Homo sapiens: one gene and its partners. The protein of the gene in region 7 purifies or fractionates together with the protein of the main gene of each other region. This does not show direct contact. Each region holds a gene or a part of one and is shown on either strand. Other genes may lie near its edges. The genes, in order: IFT172, TANGO6, DNAJA2, WDR35, WDR19, GREB1 and DNAJC7.

What was found.
Region 1: the proteins of DNAJC7 (region 7) and IFT172 purify together in Homo sapiens (affinity purification with mass spectrometry; 2 studies listed by BioGRID and IntAct, with this or other methods). This does not show direct contact.
Region 2: the proteins of DNAJC7 (region 7) and TANGO6 purify together in Homo sapiens (co-immunoprecipitation; 2 studies listed by BioGRID and IntAct, with this or other methods). This does not show direct contact.
Region 3: the proteins of DNAJC7 (region 7) and DNAJA2 purify together in Homo sapiens (affinity purification with mass spectrometry; 2 studies listed by BioGRID and IntAct, with this or other methods). This does not show direct contact.
Region 4: the proteins of DNAJC7 (region 7) and WDR35 purify together in Homo sapiens (affinity purification with mass spectrometry; 2 studies listed by BioGRID and IntAct, with this or other methods). This does not show direct contact.
Region 5: the proteins of DNAJC7 (region 7) and WDR19 purify together in Homo sapiens (affinity purification with mass spectrometry; 2 studies listed by BioGRID and IntAct, with this or other methods). This does not show direct contact.
Region 6: the proteins of DNAJC7 (region 7) and GREB1 purify together in Homo sapiens (affinity purification with mass spectrometry; 2 studies listed by BioGRID and IntAct, with this or other methods). This does not show direct contact.

The regions. Positions count from the first base shown.
Region 1 is NC_000002.12:27,444,744-27,448,243, forward strand, and holds part of IFT172 (intraflagellar transport protein 172 homolog), read right to left. Parts: intron 3,180-3,500; coding exon 3,069-3,179; intron 2,892-3,068; coding exon 2,772-2,891; intron 1,739-2,771; exon of another isoform or gene 1,613-1,738; coding exon 1,517-1,612; intron 1,246-1,516; coding exon 1,186-1,245; intron 1,101-1,185; coding exon 1,002-1,100; intron 707-1,001; coding exon 553-706; intron 363-552; coding exon 271-362; intron 1-270. UniProt on the Homo sapiens protein: Required for the maintenance and formation of cilia. Plays an indirect role in hedgehog (Hh) signaling, cilia being required for all activity of the hedgehog pathway.
Region 2 is NC_000016.10:68,923,531-68,927,030, reverse strand, and holds part of TANGO6 (transport and Golgi organization protein 6 homolog), read right to left. Parts: intron 1-3,500.
Region 3 is NC_000016.10:46,963,675-46,967,174, forward strand, and holds part of DNAJA2 (dnaJ homolog subfamily A member 2), read right to left. Parts: intron 1,134-3,500; coding exon 937-1,133; intron 1-936. UniProt on the Homo sapiens protein: Co-chaperone of Hsc70. Stimulates ATP hydrolysis and the folding of unfolded proteins mediated by HSPA1A/B (in vitro).
Region 4 is NC_000002.12:19,980,106-19,983,605, forward strand, and holds part of WDR35 (WD repeat-containing protein 35), read right to left. Parts: intron 2,430-3,500; coding exon 2,358-2,429; intron 679-2,357; coding exon 586-678; intron 1-585. UniProt on the Homo sapiens protein: As a component of the IFT complex A (IFT-A), a complex required for retrograde ciliary transport and entry into cilia of G protein-coupled receptors (GPCRs), it is involved in ciliogenesis and ciliary protein trafficking.
Region 5 is NC_000004.12:39,213,529-39,217,028, reverse strand, and holds part of WDR19 (WD repeat-containing protein 19), read right to left. Parts: intron 2,429-3,500; coding exon 2,358-2,428; intron 1,189-2,357; coding exon 1,016-1,188; intron 934-1,015; coding exon 819-933; intron 1-818. UniProt on the Homo sapiens protein: As component of the IFT complex A (IFT-A), a complex required for retrograde ciliary transport and entry into cilia of G protein-coupled receptors (GPCRs), it is involved in cilia function and/or assembly.
Region 6 is NC_000002.12:11,638,545-11,642,044, forward strand, and holds part of GREB1 (protein GREB1), read left to right. Parts: intron 1-126; coding exon 127-265; intron 266-1,746; coding exon 1,747-1,910; 3' UTR 1,911-3,500. UniProt on the Homo sapiens protein: May play a role in estrogen-stimulated cell proliferation. Acts as a regulator of hormone-dependent cancer growth in breast and prostate cancers.
Region 7 is NC_000017.11:41,982,940-41,986,439, reverse strand, and holds part of DNAJC7 (dnaJ homolog subfamily C member 7), read left to right. Parts: intron 1-532; exon of another isoform or gene 533-2,803; coding exon 2,804-2,877; intron 2,878-3,500. UniProt on the Homo sapiens protein: Acts as a co-chaperone regulating the molecular chaperones HSP70 and HSP90 in folding of steroid receptors, such as the glucocorticoid receptor and the progesterone receptor.

The DNA of each region.
Region 1 (3,500 bases), on a different chromosome or scaffold from region 7:
TTTAAGCGATTCTCCTGCCTCAGCCTCCTGAGTAGCTGGGATTACAGGTGCACGCCACCAGACCCGGCTAACTTTTGTATTTTTAGTAGAGACGAGGTTTTAACCATGTTGGCCAGGCTGGTCTCAAACTCCTGACCTCAGGTGATCCGCCCACCTTGGCCTCCCAAAGTGCTGGGATTAAAGGTATGAGCCACTGCACCCAGACTTGTTTTTTTTTCTTTTTTTAGTGCTGCCCTCTCTGCCTTCATTCTCCAAGTCCTCCTCTCTAACCTTGATGGCCATAAGGAATTTATTCCAGTTGTCCTTGTTAGCAGCCTTCCCTGGCCGCTTAAATTCAATTTTGTTCCTCAGAATGGGGTATCCTGTGGAGGAAGAAAAAATGATGAACTGGGGTTTGAGAGAGATTGAGGAGGGAAAAATGAGGAGCAGCCTGGGGGGTAGAAAGCACAGTCCTGTCTTTTGTACCCTTTACTGAATCCTAGTAAAATTAAGTTTATTGATCCTGCTGCTTTCTACCCACCACAGGATCTGGGGTGCTGTAGGCTTCTATACCTGTAATAAGGCAGGGCAGGGCTCGAACACCAGTGCTCGCTGCCACTAGGGAGGCCTCGTAGGCGCCACGCTCATCCCGAGGCAGAACCTGCTCCAGCCGCTGGTCCATGGAGACTGTAAGCACCCAGTCTCGAACCTCTTCTCTCTCAGCCTCCTGGAAAGGACAAGAAGGGAGTGGTAGCTTCACACAGGGCAGGGCAGGACAAGTTGGGGTGGATGGGTGAGGAGGGGGTTTGCTAAGCCCTCATCCTGTATACCAGCTTTTAGCCACGAATCCTCCTTGGATTGGGGGATGCAGTCACAGCCTTTTCTTTCTATTTTGCTTCTACTTTCACTGAAAAAACAGTGAGGGCTGAGGTCCTTCCAAAGATGGCAGCACAAAGATATTCTCCCTCCTCAAGGCACTCACACTGGTGAGGCCTTCCGGTTTTCCAACCCTGTGCCCTTACCGGTACATGCTGCTTAGCTGGGAGTGGCACCTCAAAGGGAATGTCTGTATCCTGAAAATCAGAGTGGTCAAGGCCATCTAGAGTCCCTTCCTCGATTGCCTGCAGTAGAGTGGGCAACCATGAACTAGGCACAGCTCGCGACTGGCAAAAACCTCCACCCTCGGGGCACAGCTTCCCTACTCACATCGGTCAGGTCCAAAAAGCGATTGAGGAAGATGAATGCCATGTTATCCCAGCCAACTGCCTGCAGCAAAGAAGAGTTGCAAATGGGAGTGAACAAGCTGGGTTTGAATGCTACTTCTCTGGGATCCAGATGCAAATGGGAGTGAGCAAGCTGGGCTTGAATGCTATTTCTCTGGGATCCAGGGAGAAAAATCCAGGAAGACATAGGAGGACTACATCCTCCGTAACATCAGCCCTACACTCAGCTTTCCTCTACCAGAGCAGAAGGGATATTCTATTTTCCAACCTTTAACTTCCTCCTATCTGCCCCACCCTTCCTTGTCCCAGCTCACCTTGGCAGCAATGCCTGCTTCATAGAAGGCTTTGTCTACAGGTAGTAGCTGGGTGTGACGCAAGAGTGAAACAGAAAGCCTGGCAGCCACGGTTTCCTGGGATTAAAGTCAAAGCATTATGAATATGGCACTAAAGTGACTGAGCTACCAGACCAATGATCCTGTAAGGCAGCCACAGAACTAAAAAACAACAATTATTATTAAACTGCTCTGGATTCTCAAGCTGTTCTGGGTCTTAGTTTTTTTTTTCTTTTTCTCTGAACAAGACACCTGGGCCTAGGTTCAATTCTTTCGCCCAGGCTGGAGTGCAGTGGTGCCATCTCAGCTCACTGCAACCTCTGCCTCCCGGATTCAAGTAATTCTCGTGCCTCAGCCTCCTGAGTAGCTAGGACTACAAGCGCACATTACCATGCCTGGCTAATTTTTTTTTTTTTTTTTTTTTTTTTTTTTTGAGACGGAGTCTCGCTCTGTCGCCCAGGCCAGACTGCGGACTGCAGTGGCGCAATCTCGGCTCACTGCAAGCTCCGCTTCCCGGGTTCACGCCATTCTCCTGCCTCAGCCTCCCGAGTAGCTGGGACTACAGGCGCCCGCCACCGTGCCTGGCTAATTTTTTGTATTTTTAGTAGAGACGGGGTTTCACCTTGTTAGCCAGGATGGTCTCGATCTCCTGACCTCATGATCCACCCGCCTCGGCCTCCCAAAGTGCTGGGATTACAGGCGTGAGCCACCGCGCCCGGCCAACCTGGCTAATTTTTATGTTTTTAGTAGAGATGGGGTTTCACCACGTTGGCCAGGCTGGTCTCGAACTCCTGGCCTCAAGTGATCCACCCGCCTCGGCCTCCCAAAGTGCTGGGATTACAGGGGTGAGCCACCACACCCACCCACCTAGATTGTTTCTAAGGTTCTTTCCACTTCTAGAATTCTATCATCCAAGTACATGAAATAAATATACAGTGAACAGTCAAAAATAAGCCCAGAATATGTGTACATTATAAGAGGTGAATAAAGAAATCATGGGATTTGGATGTTTAAACATAATGAGGCTGAGGCTGTGTGGGCACAGAGCCCTAAAAAGGTCGGAAGAAGAAAACCTCAGCAAGGGCTAAAGATTTGTTTAGACAGAAGAGAAGCTGAAAGACAGGTGGGGAGATTCAAGAGCCCAAGCTGAAGAATCCAGAACGTGAATCAATTCAGCTTTATACATTTGCAGATGAGCCCTTCTGACTGAGTGTTCCTTCGACCCCCTACATCTCACCAGCTGTTTGACACTCTGGGCTGCAGAGCGCGTGGCATAGTAATGAGCGATCAGCAGCATCGTCTTGAACTCCTCATGGGCTGGAGAGTTTGCCTCACTGGACTTCACCAGGTTTTCACACTAGAGGAGGGAGACAGCACAGCCTGGCTCAGGGGTCAGAGGAGTGCCAGGGCCATAGAGTGGTCTCTGATAGCCACCTGGCAGAGGAAGGTAAAATACATCTGAGAATAAAGGTTTATGTGCATCAAAGAAGAGATGAGGACAAGGACAGACGGAGCAGCCCTTTCGCTTCCTCACCAGGTTGAAGAGGACATCTCGAAGATCAGCCCAGCTATGATAGGCCTCGGCACAGTTGGTTCCAGGAGAGCTCACCATGTCAGTGAAGATCCTTTTGTAGATATTGAAGTTCTAGAGGTAGAGGGAAGAAGGGGATCTGAGAAGGGCATAGCTAGAAGAGAAAGTCACTGGAAGTGGGGCCAAAGGGAGGAGAAACAGGCTTTGTGTGTAGAAATGGGTATGTGTGTGTGTGCAAGGGCTGGGGGACAGTGGCAGATTTTTATTTTTATTTATTTTTATTTTTTTAATTTTATTTATTTATTTTTGAGACAGAGTCTTGCTCTGTTGCCCAAGGCTGGAGTGCAGTAGCATGATCTCGGCTCACTGCAAGCTCTGCCTCCCAGGTTCATGCCATTCTCCTGCCTCAGCCTCCCGAGTAGCTGGGACTATAGG
Region 2 (3,500 bases), on a different chromosome or scaffold from region 7:
TATATAACATTTTATTCTCCATGGAAGCTTTGTCTGAATAATGTCATATGCCTTACTACTAAGAAAGGTGCATGAGTGTTACAGCTCTATTAGAATTTGTCTAGCAGGTTTTCTGGTCTTCACTGGAAAGCACCCCCCTCACCCACTGCCACCCAAAAGGTGTATGTGTGATCAATGAAAAGTAAGAATCAATGGTAATACTTTTCTGTTTGAAAACACTGGAGAAATTATCAGATGAGGCTTCAGGAGACCCTGAAAATTTGAATACCTTAAGGATCTTAAGTCCTTTTTACTGGCCAACATGGCGAAACCCCACCTCTACTAAAAATACAAAAATCAGCTGGGCATGGTGGCATGTGCCTGTAGTCCCAGCTACTCGGAAGGCTGAGGCAGGAGAATCGCTTAAACCCGGGAGGCAGAGGTTGCAGTGAGCTGAGATCACGCCACTGCCCTCCAGCTTGGGCAACAGAGCGAGACTCTGTCTCAAAAAAAAGAAAAAAAAATCCTTTTTATTTTTATTTTTTTCTTTTCTTTTTGGAAACGGAGTCTCGCTCTGCTGCCTAGGCTGGAGTGCAATGGCGTAATCTCGGCTCACTGCAACCTCCACCTCCCGGGTTCACGCCATTCTCCTGCCTCAGCCTCCCGAGTAGCTGGGACTACAGGCACACGCCACCATGCCTGGCTAATTTTTTATAGTTTAGTAGAAACGGGGTTTCACCATGTTGGCCAGGCTGGTCTTGAACTCCGGACCTCAGGTGATCCGCCCACCTTGGCCTTCCAAAGTGCTGGAATTACAGGCATGAGCCACGGTGCCCGGCCGAGACATTTTCAAATAATTATACTAGTATTATCATTATGCTAAACTTCATTCAGTGCCTCGGTTGTATCATGGACTTTTTTAAAGCATCTAAAATGAGAATAATTTACCTACAGTCTATTTGGCCTCTTTTTTAATTTCTCTTCTATATAACAATTTCTTCTAAAAAAAAAAACCAGCCAAGACAAATAGATCAATGGGACAGAACAGAAAGGCCAGAAATAGACCCAGATAAATAGAGTCAACTGAACTTTGACAAAGGAGCAAAGGCTTTAAATGGAAAAAAAAATACAGTTTCTTTTTTCTTTTTTTTTTTTTTAATTGGAACAAGTGTCAGTAGAAAAGACAGTTTTTTCAACAAATGGTGCTGGAACAACTGGCATGCACATGTGAAAAAATGAATCTAGACACAGACCTTGCACCTTGCACAAAAATTAACTTGAAATGGATCATAAACCTAACTGTCAAATACAAAACTATAAAACTCCTACAAGTTAACATAGTAGAAAATTGAGATGACCTCTTAAAAGCAATGACCTTTTAAATACAACAGCAAAGGCATGATCTATGAAAGAAATAGTTAAAAACCTGGACCTTATTAAAATTAAGAATGTCTGCTCTGCAAAAGAAACTGTCAAGAGAATGAGAAGACAAACTACAGAATGAGAGAAAATATTTGTAAAAGACATATCTGAAAAAGGACTAATATCCAAAATATACAAAGAACTCTTTAAACTCAATAAGAAAATGAACAACCTGACTTAAAAATGGGCAAAAGACCTTAACAGATAGGTCTACCAAAGAAGAATACCCTACCAAAGAAGATATACAGATGGCAAATAAGCATAGGAAGACATACTCAATGTCATAAGTCATTAGGGAATTGCAATTTTTTCTTTTTTTTGAGACAGAGTCTTGCTCTATTGCTCAGGCTGGAGTGCAATGGCACAATCTTGGCTCACTGCAACCTCCACCTCCCAGGTTCAAGCGATTCCCCCACCTCAGCCTCTTGAGTAGCTGGGACTCCAGGTGCGGCCACCATGCCTGGCTAATTTTTGTATTTTTAGTAGAGTCAGGGTTTTGCCATGTTGCCGGGGCTGGCCTCAAACTCCTGACCTCATGTGATCCGCCCACCTCAGCCTCCCAAAATGCTGGGATTACAGGCGTGAGCCACCACACCAGGCTTCCCACCCACCCCTCTTTGCATCCACAGAGTTCTCAATCCTGGGCATGGCAGAAGCACCTTGATCCCTCCCTGATCAAGGGTGTGACCTGGGATCCCTGGCCTCGGGCTGGACAACCAGGTGCCCACAACCTGTATGGGGGTATTTACTCATTGAACATCTAGCCCCTGGGGTTGTCCAGGGAAATGCACTGGGTGGCAGCAGCTATGTGAGGAGTTTGTTTCTGTTTTCTTTTTTTTGAGACGGAATTTTGCTCTTGTCACCCAGGCTGGAGTGCAATGGCATGATCTCAGCTCACTGCATCCTCCGCCTCCCACGTTCAAGCGATCCTCCTGCCTCAGCCTTTCAAGTAGCTGGGATGACAGGTGCCCGCCACCATACCCGGCTAATTTTTTTATATTTTTAGTAGAGATGGGGTTTTGCCATTTTGGCCAGGCTGGTCTCGAACTCCTGACCTCAGGTGATCTTCCCACCTCAGCCTCCCAAAGTGCTGGGATTACAGGCATGAGCCACCGTGCCCAGCTGAGGAGCCTTTTTTTTTTGAGAGGGAGTTTCACTCTTGTTGCCCAGGCTGGAGTGCAATGGTGTGATCTCAGCTCACTGCAACTTCTGCCTCTTGGGTTCAAGCAATTCTCCTGCCTCAGCCTCCCGAGTAGCTGATCTGGTCTGGAACTCCTGACCTCAGGTGATCCTCCTGCCTCGGCCTCCCAAAGCACTGGGATTATAGGCGTGAGCCACTGGCACCTGGCCAAAGCTCTGAAAATCTTTAACGATGTGTATAAATGAGCACAATGAAGACAATTCCAGAAATAGATGGTTTAATCTCAAAAGCAAAAGAATTAGAGAGAACTAGTCAGCTTAGTTAACTGGAAAGTCATTTTCTTTTTAAGTTGTAAAATTGGAGGCACTGTGGTTTGCAAGTAAGGGCTTTTTTAGCCAGTTTGATCACCTGCATACAAGCAGTTGAAGGATGCCTCTCCACTCTAGGGAAATTCTGATAAAAGACTGGATTACCTAGAGGATAATCAAGTGAAAGCCTGTGAAAACAAGAAGCATGGCTCTCCTTTGCCCCTGATAACACATGACTAACATTCACAACACTCCCATGGGTGTGCCCAGATCTGGAGGTTGCTCACTATGGGTGAGGGCAGTGTTTTTCAACTTTTTGAGCTCATGCCCTTTTGAAAAAACAAAACAAAACAAAACAAAACAAAACAAAACAAAACAAATCATGCCTCCTTCATTAGACATCACCTTTCCTTTCTTCCTTTTATTCTTTCTTCCTTCCATTTATCCATCCATTCAAAAACTGTTAATTAAGTACCTACTGTGGCAGGTTTATTAAATATGGCAGAAAGTAAGACATCTCTAAATGAGGCTGCTTGAAAGCAACAGCAATTAAGAAGGATTGTCTGCTCTTTGGAGTTCTATATAACAGCTTGAAATAATGGGAATTTTCCCAAGCAGTTCTATAGAGCACCCAAATTGGGCTCGGTGAA
Region 3 (3,500 bases), on a different chromosome or scaffold from region 7:
GGGCGACAGAGCAAGACCATCTCAAAAACAAAAACCCCCCAAAACATACACTAGTGACCACATTCTTCAGAAGCTTCTAAAAAAATATTTTTTTTAAAAAAAATCCCAGAACCCTTTCAAGGATAGCTCACTTGGGTACCCAATAAGTAAAAACCAAATCGACAGAGCAGCAGAGTTTCACAGTGAAAATACAGGCTGCCTTAGATCAACTGGTCCAACACCCAGTGCCCTTATTTTCATAAACAAAGAAACTGAGACAGTAAGATTACCTATGGTTAAAGTGTTAGTCAATGACCAGGCCAGAGGAGAATCGCTTGAACCTGGGAGGTGGAGGCTGCAGTGAGCCAAGATCGTGCCACTGCATTCCAGCCTGGGTAACAAAGCAAGACTCCGTCACACACACACAAAAAAGACCAAGGCCAGGCGCGGTGGCTCCCGCTTTTAATCCCAGCACTTTGGGAGGCTGAGGCAGGCAGATCACCTGAGGTTGGGAGCTTGAGACCAGCCTGACCAACATGGAGAAAGCCTGTCTCTACTAAAAATAAAAATTAGCCAGGAGTGAAGAAGCATGCCTGTAGTCCCAACTACTCGGGAGGCTGAGGCAGGAGAATCACTTGAACCCGGGAGGCAGAGGTTGTAGTGAGCCGAGATCGCACCATTGCACTCCAGCCTGGGCAACAAGAGTGAAACTCCAACTGAGGGGCAGGGGGAAGAAACCAAGCCAGGACTAAAACTGACTCTTACAGTGCTTCTAACTGCACCTGCCTTGTTAGTCTTTCTTACACAAGCCCGTCTTAGGAACTCACCATGATGCCCTTAACTTCACCAGTGTTCAGTGTTGCTCCAGGGACTCCAAACAGATCTAACCTATTTCTCACAAGCAAGAAGTACTTCTGAATAAAACAAAATACAAAAAACTAAAAAAAGGAAAATCACCTCATGTTCTTTCTCCTGTAGCAAAAGAACAATGTCTCCGGGTTCCACTCCTGGGGCCTGGTCTGCTTCCCCAGTGAATGTAATTCTCTGTCCATGTTTCATGCCTTTGTCTACGTGGACTTCAAGAATCTTGACTTCTTTAATCACCTTCTTCCCTTCACATTTTTTACAGCGGTCTTTTTCATTAATTACCTCTCCTGGAAAGAGAAGTCATTGAAACTTTCAGCAAGAGTACTATACTGTACTCTTAATACCCTTATTCTTTAAATATGCTTTCTGGACTTCTTTTAATCACTACCTAAATTTTTATTCAAAGCAGCATTCTGAGGCCAAGCACAGTGGCTCAAGCCTGCAATCCCAGCATTTTGCGAGGTCAGGGTGGTAGGATCACTTGAGCTCAGGATCTGAGACCAGCCTAGCAACACAGTGAGACCTTGCCTCTACTACAAATAAAAAAAGTTAGCCGGCGTGGTAGTGCACACCTGTAATCCTGGCTACTGGGGAGGCTGAGGAGGGAGGACTGCTGGAGTTCGAGGCTGCAGTTAGTTATAATCATGCCACTGCACCCCAGTCTGGGTGACAGTGTGAGGCCATGTCTCAAAACAAAACAAAAAAAAGCACTATTCTGAATAACAAAAACTTACATCTTACTACTGCAGACTGCCTGAAGGACTCAGCTTCCCACTATTTCAGAATGTAATGTATCCATACCATGTTTAGGGCAACACAGCTTTTCTCTTATAATTATGGTATTAAAAAGCAAAACCGTGATTATACATATTATAGTGTGAAAAAACTGCGTCACTTTCTAATGGCTAATTACCAGCACATTTGAAGGCTTAGAAAGAAGTGTATAACTGATTATTTAGGGACTGTTTCTGTAACAGTACTTGTGCAAAGTATGTTCTGCAAAACACGTTCTTCAAAATGGTAATAGTGGCCGGGCATGGTGGCTCACACCTGTAATCCCAGCCCTTTGGGAGGCGAAGGCGGGAGGATCACCTGAGGTCAGGAGTTTGAGACCAGCCTGGCCAACACGGCAAAACCCCGTCTCCACTGAAAATACAAAAATCAGCCGGGCGTGGTGGCAGGCGCCTGTAATCCCAGCTACTCAGGAGGCCGAGGCAGCAGAATCACTTGAACCAGGGAGGCAGAGGCTTCGGTGAGCTGAGATCACGCAACTGCACTCTAGCCTGGGCAACAGAGCAAGACTCCGTCTCACAAAAAAAAAAAAAAAAGAAAAAAGAAAAATGTAATGGTACATGAGAAAGATTTCAGTTAACTTTGGTTTCTTGATAGTGGGAGTTAGCAATTATAATAAAATAAAAGCAGGCCAAGAGTGGTGGCTAACACCTGTAATCCCAGCCCTTTGGGAGGCTGGGGCAGGAGAATTACTTGAACCCAGGAGTTCGAGACCAGCCTGGGCAACGTGGCAAAACCCCATCTCTACAAGAAATACAAAAATTAGCTGGGCGTGGTGGCAAGCACCTATGGTCTCAGCTAATTGTGGGGCGAGGGGCTGAGGTGGAAGGATTGCTTCAGCGTGGGCGGTGGAGGCTGCGGTGAGCCGAGAGTGTGCCACTGCACTCCAGCCCAGGCGACAGCAAGACCCTATCTCCAAAAATAATAATAATTTAAAAAAATAAAGTAAAATGCCAAGACTCTCCAGGAAGGAAATATCATATGTAACTTCTCATAATTATCTCATCACTTCCAATAGCAATTTGGAAAAGGATGCTATTGAACTATACTGTCAAATATGGTAGCCACTATCAACCTGTAGCTACTTGTTTATGTTTAAATTAATTCAAATTTAAAATAGTTCTCCAGTCACACTAGCCACATGTGAAATATGCAGTAGTCACAGGTGATTAATGGCTACTGTACTGGACACTGCAGATACAGAACATTTCCATCATCACAGAAAAAAATTCTATTGGATAGCACTGCTCTAGAATGGCAGGGGTGGGAGGAGCTATGTGTTTTTATAATTAAAATTTTAATCAGAACACAGCCATATCCATGTGTCTGTGGCCATAAAAGCACTAAAAGGTCAGAGATGAGTAGTTGTGACAAAAACTATTTGGCCCACAAAGACTAAATTATTTACTTCTGTAAGGACAGCTTCAATCTCAAGATCAATTCTGAAAAGCTAACTAAAGGTTACAGTGAAATCTTCCACTTATCAGAATAACTAAACAACTACTTGTTTAGTTATTTATTATTTGATTATTTGTCCCTTTGTAGTTTAAAAGGTTCTATGTGATAAAGGAGATAGTCCTCCTATGGTGGTCATTCCTACAGAGAGAGTAAATAAAAGGTTATATTTGATAAAGAAGGAAATAGCAAAGGGACAAATAATCACCTTGCTCCTCTTTTCTGAATTAAAAAGAGTCACCTTTCACTAACACAATACAAATCTACTGTTTCTCTATGTTCACTGGGCTTAGGCATAATGGAGTAATTACTTTCACACTTTTATCTTTTATTTTTTGCAACAGGGTCTTGTTCTGTCACCCTGGCTGAAGTGCACTGGTATGATCACAGATCACTGCTCCCTCGAA
Region 4 (3,500 bases), on a different chromosome or scaffold from region 7:
CTGGCCCATGCAGGAAGTGAATTATTCCCTTTGACTTCTTACTAAATGTGTTTTTATCTACTGAGATAACTCTAGCCACTCATTTATTCATTCATTCAACAAATATTTATTGAACATGTACACTGTGCTATGTATTATAAAAGGTTCTACGTATAAAATGAACAAACAGTCATTTCCCCTTTCCCCTCAGAGCTTACAGTCTACTGAGGAACCAATATTAAATACACACTCACACACACATGAATGTAATTATAAACTGGAACTACCTAGAAGTAATTCTTATTGGAAATCTGGAAAAAAAAAAAGACTTATCTCAAGTAGAAGCTATTCTTCTGCTAAGAGTCTAAGTTCATTTTGGAGATGGCCAACAGTCACCTAATTCACTTTCTTAATAACAGGGTTAAAGTTTTAAAAAAGTGAAAAGTAGGCAGCAATAAATCCAGAAATATTATCACTGTGCAGTCAGGATGAACTCCTGTTGTTAGTAAAAGGGGTCTATTTTGGAGATGTTATTTACCCATCCAAATACTGTGATCCAGATGCCAACTTGTGAAAAATTAAATAATCTCTCCTAGTAAAGTATACCTTTATATAACATCCACACAATGATAAGCCCGTTTTCATCACTGGTAGTCAACTTCTGATACTGCTCATTCCATGTTACAACTTGAACAGAACCTAGAACATTATAAAACAATTTAGAAACTTAAAGGTTACAATTAATTTCAAATTCACATTTTTATATAAACACCAAGATCATGTTAAAATCAATATGGTTCCTGTACAGCTAACTAGTCTTTAATATTCCTCAAAACCTATTCATAAGATGCAGTTATTGATATCACTAATTTTCTACAACAATGCATAATACTATTTTTCATATCTATCCCTATTTCATCCCAGTAAAGACACCAATCATGGCTAGCTACCAGAACTACCATATACCTGATGACAGAAACAAATACAAGCATGGTTTACTCAATTGGCCTGACTCCCAAAAATAATGATGTTCAAAGGACACCATAACAAGTACTTGTTTAGGGGACTTTTATCATTTTTGGTAGATATGTCCTATAATCTCTCTTCTGCCCACCTCTCACTCGTTTTCCATTCTATTAGTAAAACACTCTTGAGCATATCTTAAACCTCTAGGGTACGTGAATAATTGATGACTTTTAATTTTTTAATCCCTAAATACTTTAGTGTACATTTCCTAAAAATAAAGACATTCTCTTCCATAATCATATTACAAATTAGGAAGTTTAACACTGATATACTATTATCTAACTCACAGTCCATATACAAATTTTACCAATTGTCCAAATAATGTCCTTTATAGACACTTGTTCTTCTCATTCCAAGATCCAATCTAGGATTATACAGTGCATTTAGTTGTTATACATCTTCAGTCTTTAGTCTTTTTTTTTCTTGAGACAGGATCTTGCACTGTCACCAAGGCTGGAATGCAGTGGCACAATCATGGCTCACTGCAGCCTCCAACTCATGAGCTCAAGCGATCCTCCCACCTCAGCCTCCTGAGTACTGGGGACTACGGGCACACAGCACCACGCCTGGTTAATTTTTTTTATTTTTTGTAGAAACAGGGTCTCATTATGTTGCCCAGGGTGGTTCCAAAATCCCAGCCTCATGCAGTCTTCCCACCTTGGCCTCCCAAAGTGCTTGAACTATAGGTGTTAGCCACTACACCCAGTCTCTTCAGTCTCCTTTAATCTGGAATCATAGGACAGATTCTAAAAAGGATTATATATACAACATCCATAGACAGGAGTATTTTCAATATATTAAAAACAGCTATTTTCTTCTAGATTTATTTAAGATGTTGTTTAATCATGTAAAAGTTGAATGACTCTAAGTTGTATTACTTATGTCTCAACAGAAATGATTACAAACAGCTCCCAACTTACAATGGTACTACTTAAATGACTTTTCGGTGATGGGAATGCAATGCACATTCAGTAGAAACCGTACTTCGAGTGCCCATACAACCATTCTGTTTTTCACTTTTAGTACAGAAATCAATAAGTTACATAAGATATTCAACATTTTAGTATAAAATAGGCTTTATGTCAGATGATTGTGCCCAACTGTAGGCTAGTGTTTTCTGGGCATATTTAAGGTAAGCTAGGCAGAGCTACGATGTTCAGTAGGTTAGGTGTATTAAATGCATTTTCAACTTACAATGGGTTTATTGGAACATATCCCCATCGTAACTCAAAGAGCATCTGTACTGTAAATATTACCATTATTTAAAATGTTGACATTTCTGCATTAAGTAGAAACTTTCTAAATGCCTAAATACCACTCAAACATGACTTAAAAGAAATTGAATGACTCACCACTATGACCTTCAAGAGTCTGATTCATAGAAAGGTTACTGGGGGCTGCAAGGCCCCTCAATTTTGCATCATCTAAAACAAAACAAAACAAACTACTATGATAAATATGTAAAAGTGACATATTATAAGATTTTGACTCTTTTTGTATTCCTGGGCAGTATTAATCATTTTTCTAAGTATGCCCCATTCTGATATATTTTTCTCATGGTATAAACATGAACAATAACACATACCCCTTGCAAAGATATTCTGGTAAAATAAAGCAAAATATATAAATGAAGATTGTTTACTCATACATTACATATATTAATAATCATCACTGCTTTTTATTCCTTTCCAAAAGACCACAAATAGAAATATTTATGGCCTACAGATTGAAAACTCTACAGCTTACAAGGGATCAAAAGAGCATAGACTTTGAAAATGGGTTTTTACTAGATTACACAGAATCTTATATTCACTCATTTATTCATTCATTTAACAAATATTTATGAAATGTGTACACTGTGCTATGCATTACAAAAGGTTCTACATATAAAATGGTGAACAAAACAGTCATTTCCCCTTTCTTCTCAGAGCTTTCAGTCTAAGGGACCAATATTAAATATATACTCACATACACATAAATGTAACTATAAACTGGGAATGTGAAAGCATAATAAGAAAGAGTAGCAGAAGTGACTTAATTTAGATTGATGGGGAACCAGGGAAGGCTATCAGAAGAACTGATATTTAAGCTGAGACTGAGAGGTAAACTGGAGATAGCCAGGAAAGGTAGAGAAAGAAGGGGAGTATTCCAGGCTAGGACACAGCAACATAAAGGCTCTGAGGTAGACAACTAGAGCCCTTGACAAACTCTAAGAAGGCCTATGTGGATGAACAGGGGAGAAAATTGCATCAAACAAGGCTGGAGTGATAGGCACAAGAAAAACTATGAAGTATTTGTAGAAAATGATAAGAATTTTAGATTTTATCCAAAGTGCAATGAAAACCTCTAAAGACGTCTTAAAAATTTACTAACCATCCTACAGAGAATATTAAAATGTCATCTCAATAAATTAATCTTGGCTTAGAAATCTGTTACACATAAAACATAGCATTTAAAATTTTCATTTAAAATACAAATGTTATGAAGATCTTAAG
Region 5 (3,500 bases), on a different chromosome or scaffold from region 7:
TTAAAATTTCATTTTAATCTTAAATGATTAAATAATTAAATTGAATCTTAAAGATTAAATTTCATTTTAATCTTAGTTGCCATATAAATTTGCCTTCAGGCATTCCATTATGGTTTACCTGAAACAAAGTAATAGAAAATAAAATTATATGCAAAACAATTAAAGAATTAAACCTTAAGTTGCAAGAAACTTAATGGTATTTCCTGTTTAACAGGTTAATTTTCAGGTTTGTTCTATTCCTGAGGGTTATCTGACCTAGAATTGGGGAAAGGTGATGGGGAGGAGGCAGGGGAAGAAAAAACAAAACAAGGTTTTCCTCACATGCTAATAGCTATTATTCAAAGAATAAAAGGGGAGACAGAACTAACATTTATTAAGTACCCACTAGGTTTAAGAGTGCTTAAAAAAAGTCACTGTGCCAAGTGAGACCACGCATTTTATTTAATCTTCCTCATGATCCATTAAAAGTAGAAGTATCCTCATTTTCCAGATGAGTAAGGCTCACAAGTGTAAAATGATTTGTCTATAGTCACTTAGCTAACAGAGGCAGAAGGGGAAATTAAATCCAGGGCCTCTCTAATTCTGAAGCTCACATTCTACCCACTATGCTATGCTGCCTTCACTACAAAGGTAAAGAATAAAAGCTTTCTAAAAATTATGCAAATTTTTAGAAGACTTACAAAACCATTTAAGCTAAGAATGAGATATGTGAATAAAAAAGAGTGAAAGACTTGGTCCTAAAAGAAACTTGCAGTGCTTCCCAAATAAGAACAGAAATTATGTGCTAGATAAGAATAAACAACTGGATTTAGACTTGCCATTTTCTCCAAGGACATAAAACCAAGCTCGATTATTCATTCCTACAGCCAGATGATAAAGACCTACTGCCACAAAGTTGGGTTCCACATCAACAGAAACTGTGATTGGTAGCTCCTATAATAAAGAAAATAGTAATAAATCAACGGCTAAACTTATTTTATTAATAAATAAAAGAAAAATAACACCATTTTCATACTCCTTCAACAGGGTTGGCTACGGTGACTTCAAGGAGGGAGGTGAGATAGGCAATCCTTGTGCTGCAGGCATCCCCAAGTATGGGAAGCTTGGTCAGGAAAACATGAAGTGAGCCCCTTTGGGTAGAGAGTGCTAGCAACTGGCCATCATCAGTCCAGGACAAGGTACCCAATCCTGAAATAATCGACAAAATAAATGATTATTCAAAAACAATATATAGTTGCAGGCAGCAAACAAATATTTTCATTTAAGCTACCAGAGACATAACAATTTTCAAATATTTTCCTTACTAGTTTAAGTAGTTTTTTTTTTAGACTAGGAAATTTGCCATGGATTGGCATAAGAATATGAGCACTGGCTCATTCCCTGTGGCTCAAAGGGAAAGTACAGTTATGTGTCACTTAACAACAGGGCTATGTTCTGAGAAATCTGTCATTAGGTGACTTTGTTGTTGTGTGAACATCATAGAGTGTACTTACACAAACCTAGATCAAATAGCCTACTACGTACCTAGGCTATATGGTATAGCCTATTGCTCCTAGGCTATAAGCCTGTATGGCATGTTACTGTACTGAACACTGCAGGCAAATGTAACACAGCAGTAAGTACTTGCACATTGAATCATATCTAAATATAGAAAATGTACAGTAAGCCTGAGCAACAAAACAAGACGCTGTCTCAAAAAAAAAGAAAGAAAGAAAGAAAGAAAGAAACAAAGAAAAGGTAGTAAATATGGACCATGTATGTGGACTGAAACGTCATTATGTGGGTCATGACTGTATATAAGAATTTATACTTTACATTAGAATTAGGATAAAATTCACTATAAATCTCTGGATCAAAGTAGACATATCTTTCTAGTCAAGCAGTATGACAACATAATTACTAAAATAAGGAGACTATTTTAGGGAACTCTAGTGAAGAGTATTAAAATTTATTTCTGGCCAGGCACAGTGGCTCACGCCTATAATCCCAGTACTTTGGGAGGCCAAGGCAGGCGGATCACCTGAGGTCAGCAGTTCGAGACCAGCCTGGCCAACATGGTGAAACCCCATCTCTACTAAAAATACAAAAATTAGCTGGGCGTGGTGGCACGTGCCTGTAATCCCAGCTACTTGGGAGGCTGAGGCAGGAGAATAGCTTGAGCCTGGGAGGTGGAGGTTGCAGTGAGCAGAGATCATGCCATTGCATTCCATCCAGGGCTACAAAACAAGAATCCATCTCAAAAAAAAAAAAAAAAATTATTCCTCCTACAACGAATGCAAATCACACGATAACAAACACAACCTTACTCTCTGTAACTGGAATGATAAAATGTCAATCTGCTTCAGAAAAATCAATACCTTTATTTTCCTCATCCAGGTTGAGTATAACATACATGTCTTTTAAGTCAACCAAGTCTTGGATTTTAATGCTGAAAAACAAAAATGCATTATTAAAAAATATATATGATCTTTATATAAAACTGTTTTAATTCACAAAAAATTACAAACCATGGAATAGGTTACTGGTCTCCAAAATGTGATGTACAGAATGATCTACTGGGTTAAGAAAATATTAGAATTTCTGTACTTCATTATATTTTATCTTTAAACTTTTGGGTTTGTTGTTGTTGTTTGTTTGCTTACTGTGTGCAGAGATGGGGGGCGGGTAGGGTTGTGCCTGGCTTAATCTCTGATCTATAGCTTCAGGAATAAGGAGGTTAAAATTGTCCTGAAGAAATTTGGGTACGAAAATATTCTCCTGAGTAGTATTAATTATTGTAAGATGATACAGGTTTCTCTTTACAATGTGTTCCCTTTCTCCCCTGCCCAGAGTTCTTTCATACAAAAGGAAGTGAATTATAGTATAGAAAGAACATTAAATTTGGATCAGAAGGATCAGGTTGAAAGCTCTGAAAAATGCGGGCATAACATTATTTCATAAGGTTGTAGTAAGAATAAGTAAGTTGATGTAAATGAAAGTTGTGTAGTACAATGTTGGGAACTAATAGTTGTAACATTTCTTTCCTCCTAACCTCCTTTTCTCCTTCTCTTCTCTTCCAGTGTTTTCCTCTTACCTTTTTTCCCTCATTATTTTCATTTAATTAAACTTTTAAGATAATTTCAGATTCACAGGTAGTTGTAAGAGGCAATATAGAGAGATAGAGAGATTCCATGTCCCCTTTTCTCCCAATAGTAACATCTTGAAACACTATAGTATAATACCACAATCAGGATACTGACATTGATAGAAACCACAAATCTTATTCCGACGTCCCTAGTTTTACTTGTACTTAGTGTGTGTGTTTACTTGTACTCAGTGTGTGTGTTTAGTAACTTTCTCACACATGAGATTCATGAGACTCACAACCATAGTCAGGATATAGATAGTTCCATGACCACAAGGATCTCTCATGTTGCCTTTTTATAAACACTCACCTCCTTCCTTCTGACCCCAGCTCCATCTCTAACCTCTGGGAATCACTAATCTGTTCTTTGTTTTTA
Region 6 (3,500 bases), on a different chromosome or scaffold from region 7:
CTCTGGCCCCCCAAAAATCTTGAGCTGGACCAAGCAGTTGGTATTTACTAGGTGCAAACCTGTAGTATAATGTTACTGAGCATTTCATAGAAAACGGTGCCCTCTCTTGGATTTCTTCTTTTTCAGATTTCTGTTTGCTATGTGAGCTCCAGGCCCCACTCTTTAAACATCAGCTGCTCGGACTTGCTGTTCAGTGGGCTGCTGCTGTACCTCTGTGACTCTTTTGTGGGAGCTAGCTTTTTGAAAAAGTTTCATTTTCTGAAAGGTAACTTTTGTACTCTTAACTCTGCACCTTGTCTTCAATGGCTGTAGTCACCGGGTACCCTGAGGAGGGGACCTTTGGTCCTAGTCCTTATTTGCCCATGGGTAAACTGAGGATCAGAGAGGGAAGTGACTGCCTCAGCCACCCAGGGAAGTGCAAGAGAGCTGGGATTTGATCCCCGGGGGCTCTCTTTCCCCTATACCTGTTTGGGTAGAGGCAAGACACATCCCCCTTTCTTTTAGATGAATTGCGGACATTTTTTAGCCTTTGTGTTTCTTTTCTTTCTTTCTTTCTGGTTTTTGAGATGGAGTCTCGCTCTGTCACCTTGGCTGGAGTGCAGTGGCACGATCTTAGCTCACTGCAACTTCTGCCTCCTGGGTTCAAGTGATTCTCGTGCCTCAGCCTCCCGAGTATCTGGGATTACAGGTGCCCGCCACCACACCCAGCTAATTTTTTATTTTTAGTAGAGACAGGGTTTTGCCATGTTGGCCAGGCTGGTCTCGAACTCCCGACCTCAGGTGATCCACCTGCCTCGGCCTCCCAAAGTGTTGGGATTACCGGCGTGAGCCACCGCACCAGCCATGTGTGTTCTTTTCCAACCCAAATCCTTCACATCGGTGTCCCAGTCGTTGCTGACACTCTTCCTCCTGGTAGACGAGTCTTTCTCCTCATCCTGGGAGGTGCCACACCACCTTGGCTTTTACGCCAGTCTTCCTCCTGTCTGCACCAGCTTGGTTGAGAATGACAAGCACTTGTTCTGCATGACTTGAAAACACGATTTCCAGTCTGCATTTCCAGTCCTGCTCAGATCCCTAGCTGACCTTCGCTTTCCTTGGTGGCCCTTGGCTCTGACCTTCCCCTCTAGCAGGCACTGAATGAGCACCAGCAGCATCTAAGGCCTTGGGAAAGATCAAGAGGTTTTACAGCAGTCTCTGCCTTGGGAAACATTTCATCTAAAGGGAGGACTGGACACAAAGGTGGGGAGGGAGCAGAGAGGGACAGTGTGGAGGAGACTGGGTTGAGGTGTCGCCAGGTGCTGGGAGTTGAGAGGAAGGGGAATTCCTGTGGCTGGCACGTGGGACAGTGGGGGCTGCCCCAGGCCTGGATGGGTGGCAGAAGAGGGGGATGAAGCTGTAAGGTGGGGTAGGTAGGGTGGGGTATGTGAGCTACCGGCTGGGGCTGAGGATGCTTGGTTTGCGATTCCACCAGCCTCTCTCCTTCCTCTCCGCACCTCGGTTCAGTCCCTGCTCGGCTTTCCTTCTGCCTCCGTGTTTTCTCCCCCGCACACCTGCCACATCCCAGCCACACTCCTGTCTCGCTAAGATTGTACATCATCCCGAAAGAAGCAAGGGGCCGACTTGGATGCCGCTTCTGCCCTTCCCAACAGCGCCCTGTCTTGTCATTGCAAGTAGAATCCGGGCAGCCGCTTTCCTCTGGATAAACTCACCTTTTCCCTTCCCACACCTCTGCCGTTGTCCACGCAGGTGCGACGTTGTGTGTCATCTGTCAGGACCGGAGCTCACTGCGCCAGACGGTCGTCCGCCTGGAGCTCGAGGACGAGTGGCAGTTCCGGCTGCGCGATGAGTTCCAGACCGCCAATGCCAGGGAAGACCGGCCGCTCTTTTTTCTGACGGGACGACACATCTGAGGAAGACAGCGGCGAGTTTTCTGAAGAGATGAGTGCTCAGAGCCCTCATGCTGTTGAGGCTAAAGGGAGGCCTGGAACGGTGGGGCGTTTGACTGGAATGGACCCCAGGGACTGTCCAGGTGCAGCCCCTCCTAGTACACATGGGCCCCCGAGGCCGTGGTCCTGGGAGCCAGGAAGACTCCGCAGTGGGTGAGAATGAAAACTTGAGACTCCCAAGTTCTGGGCCAGCCCATTGCTCTGGGCTGTTTTAAAGCCCATTTCACGAGGAACAAAGATTTACTTCCTGTCCTGCCATTCGTGTGCTTCCATGGACAAACCTGATTTTTTTCTCTTAGTTCTAAAGAATCTTGGGTTATTTTGTAGCGGTGCCAGTATTTCAGTAGATGGGATTTCAGCCAAGTAGGTTCCCCTGTAACCTCCTACAAAGCAATATTCCAAAGGAACATTTTAACTGTAAAGGCTGGAGACAAGAAAAAATAAGTAGATCGTTTTAATAACAATTATTTAATTGCCTATAAGTTTGCTGTTTCAGAGGCTAGCCCAAAGGCATCAAATTTAATAAAGTTAAACAAATTGATTTACTTCAGAGCAAATATGATCCTATTAAAATAATATAGGGTAAATACCCTACCTCTTAGAAAGGGCAAAAATGCAAAGAAGCTTTCTTTAAAACTAAAAGGGTTTTTTGGGGGGGGAGTTGGCGGGGAGGAAATAAGGCTAACAGAGGTTGACCTAAAATTAGCCTTACAAAGGAGAAAGGACCACATTGCTTACTTGAAACAGACAATGAAAACAACCAAAGTGATATATAAAATAGTTGATGAGAACTAGACTTATGACTGTAGTTTACTAGAGTTTAGTTTTCAGTTGCTGAAGTAGCTCATTTTCTCTTACTAATGTTTGGTTCCTCAGGGAAGAATCTCACTTGACTAGAGAGGAGGTGGGAACAGAAGAGAGAAGGAGGCAGGGAGATGTATTTCTTAGGGCTCACCCCTTCACAGACTGACAGAATGGTTTTGTTTTGTTTTGTTTTGTTTTGTTTTGTTTTTGAGATGGACTCTAGCTCTGTCACCCAGGCTGGAGTGCAGTGGTGCGATCTCGGCTCACTGCAAGCTCCGCCTCCCGGGTTCTCACCATTCTCCTGCCTCAGCCTCCCGAGTAGCTGGGACTACAGGCGCCCACCACCACGCCCGGCTAATTTTTTGTATTTTTTAGTAGAGACGGGGTTTCACCATGTTAGCCAGGATGGTCTCGATCTCCTGACCTCGTGATCCGCCCGCCTCGGCCTCCCAAAGTGCTGGGATTACAGGCGTGAGCCACCGTGCCTGCCCCAGAATGGTTTTTAAAGCCACAGTTGAGAGGCCACCCATTGCCCGGCGCCTGGACAGTGATCATCTTGTTCATCTTGTTCAGTCCTTTCTTGTGTGATTGGAATTATTCATCCCCTTTGAAAGATGAGAAGGTTGAGATGCAAAGAGTCTACCTTTCCAAGTTCTCACTGCTGGAAAGAGCTAGAAGCACAGTTCAAAGTTCTGGCTTCTGGACTCTGCAGTCCAGGTCTCCCTTCTCCCACTTGCCTACCCTCAATGC
Region 7 (3,500 bases):
ATGCCAGGGGATGGGAAGAGAAGAGAAAAATCGCTTTGTTTTATTTTTTGGGATGGAGTCTCGCTATGTCGCTCGGGATGGAGTCTCGCTATGTCGCTCAGGCTGGAGTGCAGTAGCACCGTACTGGCTCACTGCAACCTCCACCTCCTGAGTTCAAGCGAATTTCCTGCTTCAGCCTCCGAAGTAGCTGAGATTACCGGCGCATGTCACCACACCCAGCAAATTTTTGTATTTTTATTGGAGATGGGGTTTCATCATGTTGGCCAGGCTGTTCTCAAACTCCTGATGACAAGTGATCTGCCTGTCTTGGCCTCCCAAAGTTCTGGAATTACCAGCAGGTGTGAGCCACCGCGCCCGGCCTTTTTTTTTTTTTTTTTTTTTTTTTTTTTTTTAAGCAAGCCCCCAACACCATAGAAAATTCTTGATTTGCTCGGAGGATAATTGGATGAAGGATTATTTTCTTCTTTGTTTATGTGCAAGAAATGAAAATAAGGAATTGCTTTGATCAGACAACTTCTTATCTTTGTGGTAGAAACAGAACTGCCCTTCTTGGAGTGGCTCTGCCTCTGAGATCACTACAGGGGAGACAGCATGCCCTGTTCAGCTGGCTGAATATTTGGCAACAATCTCCTGAAGCAGCTGGAATTGACAAGAAGTACTGGAGATTAGCTCGGGCCAAACCCTTACATCTGGCCTGACTACTGCTGCAGTCTGCCTCAACTTACCCCTAAAGCTGGGGAGATGCCACCCACCCACATCTTTGCTACACATGCCATCATGAGCTAGAGTTCACCCTTTCTCCTTAAAGCCCTATTTACTTTTCTACTTCAACTTTAAAACAAAATTAAAATGTGAGGATATCCCTGAATTTTAAAAAGCATGAAGTAAAAATGCAAATTAGTATAGTTTGTTTAATACATTACATATAGACCTAAAGAAAGTTCATCAGGGTTAATCATTTGTCACATCATTCTATACCCAGGGCTATCAGCTATCAATTTTCCTTTTTTTTTTTTTTTTAATTCAGGATCCAGCTCTGTCACCCAGGCTGGAGTGCAGTATCAAAGTATCATTTCTCTTACTTCAAATTATTACATTTTATTCTGTACATTGATTCTGAACTCCTAATATAATATTTATGTCCTGTATTTGCAGGCCATTGGTTTTTTTAAAGTCATAAATCAAAATGATGCCAGAAAATCAAAGATGCCCAAGATGTTGGGCTTCTCTTTTGCCAGCCACATTGGTAGCACTCTCCTGCCCTGGCCTCCAAGCTGGTGGGGATCTGTGATGTTTGTGAAAATGGGCTTATGCCAGGCGCAGTGGCTCACGCCTATAATCCCAGCACTTTGGGAGGCCGAGGCGGGCAGATCGGTTCAGGTCAGGAGATCGAGACCAGCCTGGCCAACATGGTGAAACCCCATCTCTACTAAAAATACAAAAAATTAGCCAGGTGTGGTGGCACATGCCTGTAATCCCAGCTACTCAGGAGGCTGAGGCAGGAGAATCACTTGAAACCTGGGAGGCGGAGGTTGCAGTGAGCAGAGATCGTGCCATTACACTCCAGCCTGGGCTACAGAGTGAGACTCTGTGTCAAAAAAAAAAAAGAAAGAAAATGGGCTTGTGTGGTAGCAGGTAAGAAATTGAATCTCTGTTGTACAGCAGCTAGCTGTACTGCATGATCACTTCCCATTCCCCAGCTGACAGTGGCTGTCTCTGGAACTCCTACCACAGTCTTCAATTGGTAGGCCAGCCCTGGTGCCAGTGATTTTATCTGGGCATGGAAAATGCCACTTGCTTCTGTGGAAGAGACACTTAAAAGATCTGGCAGTCGGCCGGGTGCGGTGGCTCACGCCTATAATCCCAACACTCTGGGAGGTCAAGGCAGGCGGATCACGAGGTCAGGAGATGGAGACCATCCTGGCTAACACGGTGAAACCCTGTCTCTACTAAAAAAAAAAATAAAAAATTAGCTGGGCGAGGTGGCGGGCGCCTGTAGTCCCAGCTACTCTGGAGGCTGAGGCAGGAGAATGGCGTGAACCCAGGAGGCGGAGCTTGCAGTGATCCGAGATCACACCACTGCACTGCAGTCTGGGCAACAGAGCGAGACTCCATCTCAAAAAAAAAAAAAAAAAAAAAAGATCTCGCAATCATCCTGTCAAGCTTGATTCCTCCGATCTTGGGCCAAGGGCCCCTCCTTTCTTTTGTGCTACTGAAATAGAAGCAAACCTGTGTTTAGAGTTCCCTTTTCTGTCTCATTTACCTGCATCTCTCATTGATTGGTCTTAGTGGAGGGATTTGCCAGCAGCTGCCACGTTGAACTTGATCCTTTTAGTGGCTCACTAATCCCACCTCTATTCTGGATTGTAGCTAGTCCTGCATGTTTATGGCACTATAGGTTTCAAAGCTCTTTCATACCCATTTATTCACTTGATAATTTTTCTCTTGTGTGTTTCAACCCAAAGTAATCAAGTAGATCCCTTCACATTGTCTTTTCTAAGGCAGTCCAGTACCTCTTAGGTGGCTGTGTGTCAGAAGGAACTTTTTCCTCTTGATTACTTTCTGCTCAAAGCTGAACATCACTTTGCTGGTTGGATGCAAGTGCCATGCGACCTCTCTTTTTATTTCCTTGAGGACTTGTTAGCTAATTTTCTCTCACTGCTAGATTAAGGGCTCCTGTTTCTGAAGCATCTTACCAGAAGTGTGTGTCTCTTGCTTGAGCCATGCCTCTTGCCCTAGAGTGATCCTGAGAACCACTGCTATTTATGTCTTAGTGCTGTATTGCCTTGTATTTCCTTCTCAGTTACATGGACACAGAACAGTATGAAGAAGCAGTACGAGACTATGAAAAAGTATACCAGACAGAGAAAACAAAAGGTAAGTTTAAAAGCATTTGTTTTTTAGGGAACTGTGTGGACTTCGTAGGCCATAAATCTGTACACAAGGTAGTTTGATTCAGGGATCAGGGATCTACCTAGAACTTATTTGATCACCAGCCAGAAAGAAGTGAACAAAGGCTGGGCGTGGTGGCTCACGCCTGTAATCCCCAGCACTTTGGGAGGCTGAGGCAGGCAGATCACCTGAGATCAGGAGTTGGAGACCAGACTGGCCAACATGGTGAAACCCCATCTCTACTGAAAATACAAAAAATTGTGGGTATGGTGGTATACGCCTGTAATCCCAGCCACTCAGGAGGCTGGGGCACGAGAATTCCTTGAACCCAGGAGGCGGAGGTTGCAGTGAGCTAAGATTGCGCGACTATACTCCAGCCTGGGTGACGGAGCGAGACTTCATCTCAAAAACAAAAACAAAAAAAAGAAAAAAAAAGTGAACAGATATCTTGGGTTGGGGCATGAGGCACCTATTTTCTGGTTCCAGATCCTCCCTGTCGTTTTCATTTCATTTTTTGTGTGGTGAGGCTAAAGTGAGGAACCTAAGTCTGGGTAGATTTTCTTTTTTCTTTTTCTTTTTTTTTTTTTTAAGATGGAGTCCTGCTCTGT